2 linked regions of the Homo sapiens genome follow. The protein of the gene in region 1 purifies or fractionates together with the protein of each later gene. This does not show direct contact. Each region holds a gene or a part of one and is shown in the gene's direction. Other genes may lie near its edges.

The links. The genes of interacting proteins can lie anywhere in the genome.
Region 2: the proteins of SPMAP2 (region 1) and PRICKLE3 purify together in Homo sapiens (affinity purification with mass spectrometry; one large-scale study listed by BioGRID and IntAct). This does not show direct contact.

What each region holds. Positions count from the first base shown.
Region 1 is NC_000019.10:372,559-378,066, reverse strand, and holds the start of SPMAP2 (sperm microtubule associated protein 2), read left to right. Parts: upstream 1-2,040; 5' UTR 2,041-2,096; coding exon 2,097-2,404; intron 2,405-3,645; coding exon 3,646-3,768; intron 3,769-4,055; coding exon 4,056-4,127; intron 4,128-4,535; coding exon 4,536-4,597; intron 4,598-5,366; coding exon 5,367-5,436; intron 5,437-5,508. UniProt on the Homo sapiens protein: May be involved (but not essential) in spermatogenesis.
Region 2 is NC_000023.11:49,176,191-49,179,873, reverse strand, and holds part of PRICKLE3 (prickle planar cell polarity protein 3), read left to right. Parts: intron 1-67; coding exon 68-181; intron 182-485; coding exon 486-623; intron 624-1,398; coding exon 1,399-1,602; intron 1,603-1,694; coding exon 1,695-1,881; intron 1,882-2,671; coding exon 2,672-2,971; intron 2,972-3,608; coding exon 3,609-3,683. UniProt on the Homo sapiens protein: Involved in the planar cell polarity (PCP) pathway that is essential for the polarization of epithelial cells during morphogenetic processes, including gastrulation and neurulation.

The sequences.
Region 1 (5,508 bases):
AAGGGGATTTTCCCATGGCCTCCTTGATGGGACCGGATCCTCCCCGGGGCCCTTCTGCCTGGAGTCCTCCGAGAGACCCCTTTCCTGACAGAGGTGGTGGTGAGGCTGCGTCTGGGAGCAGAGCATCAGGGAGATGGGATGGGAGCTGGAGAGGGCTTTGTGTGTGTCGATGAACTGGGTCTCTTGCGTGCCGAGTGGTCACCATGCCCGGAGGGCCGGCCCCACGCTGGTGGCAGGGGTGAGGGACAGAGCAGTCCTCGGGGTGGGCTAGCACTGGGTGGGGGTAGGGGTGGGGGTCCTAGGCCTGGGAGCCCAGAAAGGGGAGGGATGGTCAGGGACTCTCCCTGCGTGGGGGACCGACAGGCTTGAGTCTTCAATGATGAGTAGAAAACCACCAAGCACAGAAGGGTGAAAGGCTGGGTGGGGGCACACAGCACAGAGGGGGAGAGGCTGGGTGGGGCACAGAGGGGGAGAGGCTGGGTGGGGCACAGAGGGGGAGAGGCTGGGTGGGGCACAGAGGGGGAGAGGCTGGGTGGGGCACAGAGGGGGAGAGGCTGGGTGGGGGCACAGAGGGGGAGAGGCTGGGTGGGGGCACAGAGGGGGAGAGGCTGGGTGGGGCACAGAGGGGGAGAGGCTGGGTGGGGCACAGGGGGGAGAGGCTGGGTGGGGCACAGAGGGGGAGAGGCTGGGTGGGGCACAGAGGGGGAGAGGCTGGGTGGGGCACAGGGGGGAGAGGCTGGGTGGGGGCACAGAGGGGGAGAGGCTGGGTGGGGCACAGGGGGGGGAGAGGCTGGGTGGGGCACAGAGGGGGAGAGGCTGGGTGGGGCACAGAGGGGGAGAGGCTGGGTGGGGCACAGGGGGGAGAGGCTGGGTGGGGCACAGAGGGGGAGAGGCTGGGTGGGGCACAGAGGGGGAGAGGCTGGGTGGGGGCACAGAGGGGGAGAGGCTGGGTGGGGCACAGGGGGGAGAGGCTGGGTGGGGCACAGGGGGGAGAGGCTGGGTGGGGCACAGAGGGGGAGAGGCTGGGTGGGGCACAGAGGGGGAGAGGCTGGGTGGGGGCACAGAGGGGGAGAGGCTGGGTGGGGCACAGGGGGGAGAGGCTGGGTGGGGCACACGGGGGAGAGGCTGGGTGGGGCACAGAGGGGGAGAGGCTGGGTGGGGCACAGAGGGGGAGAGGCTGGGTGGGGGCACAGAGGGGGAGAGGCTGGGTGGAGGCACGGGGGGGGAGAGGCTGGGTGGGGCACGGAGGGGGAGAGGCTGGGTGGGGCACGGAGGGGGAGAGGCTGGGTGGGGGCACAGAGGGGGAGAGGCTGGGTGGGGCACAGAGGGGGAGAGGCTGGGTGGGGCACACAGGGGGAGAGGCTGGGTGGGGCACAGAGGGGGAGAGGCTGGAAATTCAGCTCCTTTGGCGACGTACGAGGAATTCCTGAAGGCAGCAGCCTGGGGAATACTCCAGTTATAACCATTATTTTGTTGTGAGGGTTGGAACAGCCTATTTTGAAGTTATTTCTCATGAGAGGTTGGGGCTGGAAGCGTCTGTATCACCTAGGGTGCAGTTTTAGCTGCTAGGAATTGGAAACCAAGCCAAAACGACTTAGTACTAAGGAAACTTACTGTTTCAAGTAACAAGAAGCCTGGACACAGAGTGGATTCCAAGGCTGCTAAGTTCAGAGGCTCGACAGCCACATCAAAGGCCCACCTTTCAGTTCATCTGCCCTCAGATGGCAGGCCTCATGGTCACAAGAAGGCTGCCTGGGCTCTGGACATTACCGACGGGCCCCACAGGGACAGGAACAGGAGACGCGGTCTCTTCCTTGTGTCTCCTTTTGAGAGAGGGAATCCATAGCTAGATGCCCCTGCAGGTTCCCGTCAGGTCTCCTTCCTAAACCAATCCTGGGAGGTCCTGAGTGAGCCGTGACCACCAGGACTGAGTCCTGATCCCAGCGCAAGCCCAGGTGACCAGCATTGGAGACGGCGCACGGGTTAGAATGTGGACCGTGGGGAATGTGACGGACGCTCTCCTGTTGCCGCGGCCACCACAGACACATTTGGGTGCCGGGAGAGTGAGGCCGCGGGGGCTGGGAAGGGACCGGTGTATGGGGGACAGCAGGCGAAGGTCACTCGGGAACCAGCCCAGCTCTGAGGCTGCGGGCAGGTCGGAAAGGGAGCAGGACGGCGACCCCCGTGGCCTCCAGAGCTCTGTGTACGAGAGCCGGCGGGTCACAGACCCCGAACGCCAGGACCTGGACAATGCAGAGCTGGGACCAGAAGACCCAGAAGAGGAGCTTCCCCCCGAGGAGGTGGCCGGGGAGGAGTTCCCGGAGACCCTGGATCCCAAAGAGGCACTTTCTGAGTTGGAGAGAGTCCTGGACAAGGACTTGGAAGAGGACATTCCTGAAATCAGGTGGGCACCGGGGAACGGGCCTGCCTGGGTGCGGTGGGGTAGGGCTCAGCCCCTGGCAGTGGGGGGAGGGCAGCAGCCCCCTGGGCGGGCGAAAGGGTCGTAACCGGCCACCGGCCTGGCTCGCTGCTCCCGAGGGGCCCGGCCCTGCCGAGTCAGCCTAGGTGTGGGCTTGGTCGGTTGGCGGCCAGCACCCCTCACTGGGCCCTGAGGCAGACACCAGCAGACGCTCCCCTATCTGGTGGCAGGAGGAGGAGTAAACAGCGCTGAGTTTGGAGTCAGGCAGACTGAGTTCAGGTGCCCAGAGTTCAGAGTTTAGCGAGTGATGGCCTCAAGTCAGACAGAGAGAATAAGAAATGGGAAAAAAAAAGCCTCCCAACTCAAAAGTTGAAACCATTCTAAGCACCACACGTGGCTAAAAGGTTTTAAATGGTCGGGAGGAACACGTTCTGGGTGAACTGACGCTTCGGCCAATCAGCACTGGGGGCGCTGATTTTGGGCAGTTGCTGGAGTGTCCCCAGCAAGGCGCGCACTCTACATACCTCTGGGACTCGGCTCCCGTCCTCCCTGCAGCGTGGTCCCTGCACGTGCCCGACCTGCCCCCTTCTCACCGTGGTTTCCGTGCCGCCCAGGGAGGTTTGCCGCCCAAGAACAAAGTGGCTGCCCTGCCCTCATGGGGCTCTGCCAACCTGCAGAGAAAACAGCAGGAGTGTGAGGGGATTCTGGGGAGAACGTGGGAGCCAGCAGCTGCATCAAGCAAGGACAGGGCAGATATCCTGGCATTTGGCATCTTCACCTGCTGCCTGTTTCCCTCCCACAGTCTGTGAGCTTTCTGGGAGGCAGGAGCCGCTCTCTTTAGAGGGTGGTTGCCCCTCTGGGGCCTGGCATACAGTAAGCACTTGACAGATGTCTGTGAGATGAGTAAACACTACCTTAGTACTCACCAAAACAGCCCCGCCAGGTGGGAGCTGGTCTCACCTCCAATTCACAGAGGAGGAAGCTGAGGACCAGGGGAGACAGGTGACCTGGACGGGTCTTCCATCCAGCGAGCAGTGGAGCTGCGGTTGGTCCAGGCCTTCGTGGTGCCAAAGTCCTCCCTCAGAGACCCCTCGAGGGAAAGGAGAGGCGGGTGGGCAGGGTGAGTGCAGACAAAAGGCGCTTGAGCAAGACCCACGCTTCTCTGGGCTCCCAAACGCATCGGGGCGGGAAAGCAGCTCCAACTTCAACGTGGAATTCTCCCAAAGCCGGCTGTCCATCAGCCAGAAGCTCCCCAGCACCACCATGACCAAAGCAAGGAAGAGGAGGAGGCGGAGGAGGCTCATGGAGCTGGCAGAGCCCAAGATAAACTGGCAAGTCCTGAAAGACAGGTGAGGACACGCCAGACCACGGCCTCGTAGGGGCAGCGTGGGCGGCTTTCTCTGCACCCTTCCCGGGCTCCTCCTGTCCCCACTGCTCGGCTCCCCTCCCCCAGCTGCCACCACATCCAGCAAACTTAGGGTAGGTGGGGTTGGCCAGTTAAGGAGGTGGCCAGACACTGGGAGTGGCTAGGGAACGGTGGCCCTCTGGGCGGTGGCCAAAGGAGAGTGAGGAGTTTGGGAGCAAACGGGAGACCCAGGGCAAGAGGCAGTGGGGCTCGGACCCTGTCTCCTCGCAGGAAGGGACGCTGTGGTAAGGGGTATGCCTGGATCTCCCCATGTAAGATGAGCTTGCACTTCTGTCTCTGCTGGTAAGTCCAGGGCTGTCTCCGCCGTGTGCCTATGCTGGGGGACACGTGTCAGGTTCCAGGGGACCCCTTCACTCCAGCCACCCTCCTCTCTCCAGGGAGGAGGATCAGGGAGGGCTCCTCAGATGTGGGGCTCTCCACCCTTGTGACCTGGGTCTGCTCCCAGGAGGTGGCCCTGGGCCCTCTTCTTAGCTATGCTTCTCCCCCAGCTACCTCCTTCTCTGGACATCAGCCTTGCTCACAATAATCCACGCGTCCCGCCGGCCCCCCCACTGTCCTTCTCTGGCCTACCCCCTCTCCCAGCAACTCCACACCCCACCTCGGCCACCCTCCTGGCAGAGACCCAGGCTTGTTTCCGGGCAGGGCCAGGGCTCTCTGCCTCCCTTGCCCTGAGCCGTCCGCTTATTCCAGGCCCTCTGTGTACTGGACCGAGCGGTTCCTTGAGGACACCACCCTCACCATCACAGTGCCCGGTAGGTGGAGCCCGTGCCTGCTGAGACCCCTGCCCCCGGCTGCCGGCCTCCAGGGAACCTGCCCCGCCCCATCTAGATACTTCTGGCCTCCCTTGCCCCATCTCCTCGGAGCCTCTGTCCTCCCCACTGGAGTCTGTCCCCTGAGGAGCTAGAGCTGAGACTGGTCCTGGGGGTGAGGGGCATGGGGAACACTCTCTAGGATAGGGCCAAATCGGGGCAAGAATTTACAAAAAGACCCTTTGCTTTCCCTTCCACAATGATTTCCATGCTTTTCTTGAGAGGAATTTGGTATTGAGGTATCATAGATACCTTCAAATGAGACACTTCGAGAGTTCCCCATAGAGGAGAATAACAGTCCAGTTCTCTCCTGTGCTGTTCTTGACTTTAGACCTACAGTCATCACTAGGCCCCTGGAAACCCCAGGCTTGTACTAACTTCAGAACAAAACCCATTTTCCCAGCCTGTGGGTCCCTGGATCTGTATTGAGCCCCGTTGAGGAGCCACGGTGCTGGGCTGCTGTTCCAGCCCTGCCACTCCCATCCGGTGTCCGAGAAAGGACCTTCAAGCCTCTGAGCCCATTGTCCCTAAATCAGGGACAGCAAATCTTCTCTCTGCAGGGTGTCTGGCCCCCAGTTGTCTCTGCCCACAGTTCTTCCAATTCAGCCTCCTGCCCAAGCTCATGAAAAGCTGAATTCCGCATGCAGAAGCCCCTGGGAACTGCAGGGTGTTGACACTGGGGTTCACTGACTCCGTTTCCCATTTTGCATAGCGGTGTCCCGCCGCGTGGAGGAACTGTCTCGGCCCAAGAGATTCTACCTGGAATATTACAACAACAACAGGTGGGGGAAGGAGGGCTGGGTGGCTACTCAGAAGGCAGAGTTTGGCAGAAATGCCTTATTCTCGCCTGACAG
Region 2 (3,683 bases), on another chromosome or scaffold:
GCCATCTCACTGCATCCCAACTCACCTCTCATTTCAGTTGTTTTCTCCCACTCCTATGTCCTCCCAGGTATATCAATTTTTCAGCTGCCTCCCAGAGGACAAGGTCCCCTACGTCAACAGTCCTGGGGAGAAATACAGGATCAAGCAGCTGCTGCACCAGCTGCCCCCACACGACAGTGAGGTGAGGAGAGAGAAGACAGGAAGGGCATGCCAGGCACAGCACACAGCCTGGGCCAATGCAGGGCAGGGTCAGAGGAGGAAAGGTGAGCTGATCTGAGGTGAGTGGTCCAGACAGGCAGGGGTCATCAGGGGACATTCCTTGGCAAAACCACAGCTGGGCCTTGGAAGAAGAGGTGGTTACTTCAGGCAGGAGGCACCATCTATAGAAAGACCTAGAAGTAAACTTTCGGGGCATGGATGAAGTCTGGAAGAGGGGCAGGGACAGGCATCAAGGGAGGAGCCTGGGAGATGCCTTCTCCTCCCAGGCACAGTACTGCACAGCACTGGAAGAGGAGGAAAAGAAAGAGCTCCGAGCCTTTAGCCAGCAGCGGAAGCGGGAGAATCTGGGGCGTGGCATCGTGCGCATCTTCCCGGTGACCATCACTGGGGCCATCTGTGAGGAGGTGAGCCGTGGAGGGCCTCAGCGAGTGAGCAGTGCCTCTGCTCCAAGCCCTGGGGAGCAGGACACATCTTCCAAGCACTGGGAAGATGAGGCCTGCCACTTAAGCCCCAGTGAGGTGTCTCTAGGGTCCCCTCTTGTGGGCGGGGTCTGTTCCTCACATCTCACTGTTGGGCAGGGACTGTCTCTAAGGCAACCCCTGGTGGACAGGGACCTGTCCCATCAATCCCACTGTCGTGTGGGGTTTGTCTGTAAGGAGGCCTTAGTGTGTTTTTCTCCCCGTCTGTGCAGTGGACATGGGGCATGGGCTATCTCTTTGGTCCTCCTGTGGTCAGAACTTGTCCTCAAGAGCTGACCCACAGTGGCAGGGCCTGTCTGCAGGGCCCAGTGGTAAGCAGGGCCTGTCCTTAGATCCTACTGTTAGGTGAGATCTATTGCTAAGGTCCCGGTGGGTGGAGACTATCTCTGTGGTTTCCCCCACTAGGCCTGGCCTGTCTGTCTTCCCCACCCCTGATGAGGGAGGCTTGCCTATAAGGCCACCCACCATGGGTAGGGCCTGTCTCTACGGCTTCCCTCATGAGCAGGGTCAGTCTCTAAGGTACCGCCCAACCCCATCCCTGGTATAGGCAGGGCCTGTGTCAAAGTTACCCCATGGGTGGGGCTGATCACAAAGTTTCACTGTGGGAAAGGCCCAAGTGTAACATACTTTGGCTGACCCCATCCATCTGACCATCTTGGTGACAGTGATGGTAACCATCTTGGTGCTTGTCTCATGGCAGTGCGGAAAGCAGATTGGAGGTGGGGACATCGCAGTGTTTGCCAGCCGTGCAGGCCTGGGTGCCTGCTGGCACCCACAGTGCTTCGTGTGTACCACGTGCCAGGAACTGCTGGTTGACCTCATCTACTTCTACCATGTTGGCAAGGTCTACTGCGGGCGTCACCATGCCGAATGCCTGCGTCCACGCTGCCAAGCCTGTGACGAGGTTTGGGCCTCCCTGCCCAGGGGTGGGAGTTGAGGGTGGGCAGGGCCAGGAGCAGGCTCATCTGACAGCCACAGATGGCCTGCGCCCTCCAGATCATCTTCTCCCCTGAGTGCACGGAGGCTGAGGGCCGCCACTGGCACATGGATCACTTCTGCTGCTTTGAGTGTGAAGCTTCACTAGGAGGGCAGCGCTATGTCATGCGTCAGAGCCGCCCCCACTGCTGCGCCTGCTACGAGGCCCGCCACGCGGAGTACTGTGATGGCTGTGGGGAGCACATCGGTGGGTGAATGCTGTGGGACTGGACAGAGGGATGGATGGACAGCTGGGCCACAGTCCTACCCCACCAGGACTCCTCCTGTCCTCCAGGCCCCATCCTCCATTGTGCCCTGTACTTTGTCCAGCCCCAACACTATAGACCTGTACGCTTGGTTGCAAGTCCCACTCCCAATGTCCCCACTATGCCATGCTTTCTAAACCCCACCTAACACAATGCTAGGCCACCACCACATGTCTACACCCACCTCCAGAGGGTGCTCTAATTCCAGCCCCAGGGCTCGCCCTACTCCTAGCCTCTACCACCCCAAGCTGTGCCCCGTTCTCCTCCACTCTCCTGTATCAGCCTAAGTCAGGCCTAGCTTCTAGCTACACCCTATCCTCTGAGAACCACTCCTTTCTCAACAGGGCCACTCCCCACCTGCTAAGCCCTGCCCCCACCAGCCAGGCCTCCTCTTCAGGCCCAGCTTTCCATTCTCCTTCCACTTGGAGCCACCCCCTAATGTCTAAGCCTGGCCCGAATCTTAGAGTCCAATGCCCACCCCGCTCTGGGAGAGAGCACCCTGGGAAAGAAAGGGAGGAGTGAGAGAGAGGTTCACCAGCCAGTCTCCAGGAGAGAACCAAAACCTGTTTCCTGCTTTCTCCAAAAGGGCCCCATTCTGGAGGAGGGAGGAAGGCACCCAGGGGTGCCCTGCCTCGGATTCCCCACCTCTTCTTGAGAAGGGACTCGTTCACGAGGGGTGGGGTTACGCCTGGGGGTTCTGCCTCAGTTTTTCCCCCTCGTCGTTCCCCACAGGCCTGGACCAAGGCCAGATGGCTTACGAGGGCCAGCACTGGCATGCCTCAGACCGCTGCTTCTGCTGTAGTCGCTGTGGGCGGGCCCTGCTGGGCCGCCCATTCCTGCCACGCCGAGGCCTAATCTTCTGCTCTCGAGCCTGCAGCCTTGGGTCCGAGCCCACAGCTCCAGGGCCGAGCCGCCGCAGCTGGAGTGCCGGCCCTGTCACAGCCCCACTTGCAGCCTCCACAGCCTCTTTCTCTGCTGTGAAGGGGGCATCAGAGACCACCACCAAAGGCACCAGCACAGAGTTAGCGCCAGGTGAGCTAACCCTCTAGCCACACCCAGCCACAGCCCAGTCACCCCTATGTCCTTGCCCCTGCCTCAGCCCTGGCCCTTCCTTCTTGACTAGCCCAGGCCCTTCACCTGCTGTATCCCTGGGCCCCGCCCATTTCTCAGCTCATCCTCCTTCCCCACACCAGTCCAGGCCTGGTTTCCATCCCAAACTACACCCGCCTCATGAACCCTGGTTCCACCCTGTCAATACAGGGCTGGTCCCCTACCTCAACTTGTCTCTGCTTGACCCCAAGTTCCTCTTCCTCTTCTCCAGCCGGTCACCCTTCATCCTCTGCAGTCAGGCCCCACCCCTTTTATTGCAAACCAAATCTACTCCAGCCTATGCCACACCTCTTCCATCCGAAGCCACCCCGGGTGCCCTGGCCACGCCCCCCACACCAGTCCCATCTTGCTCCGTGTTCTTCCTTCCAACCCTCTCAACACCCAGAGCCTGCTCCAGGCCTCACACTTCCCAGACTTCCCACCTCCCTGCCATTCTCCGACCCCTGCCCCCACTTTCCCAGTCTTAGTGGAGGAAAGAAGGCCCTTCCGCAGGCCTCCTCTTAGGAGGGGGCCAGTGGGAGGGCAGATACAAGGAGTCACTCTGTCTCCCCCTTAACAGCTACAGGCCCTGAGGAGCCCTCCCGCTTTCTGAGAGGGGCTCCCCACCGCCACTCCATGCCGGAACTGGGGCTCC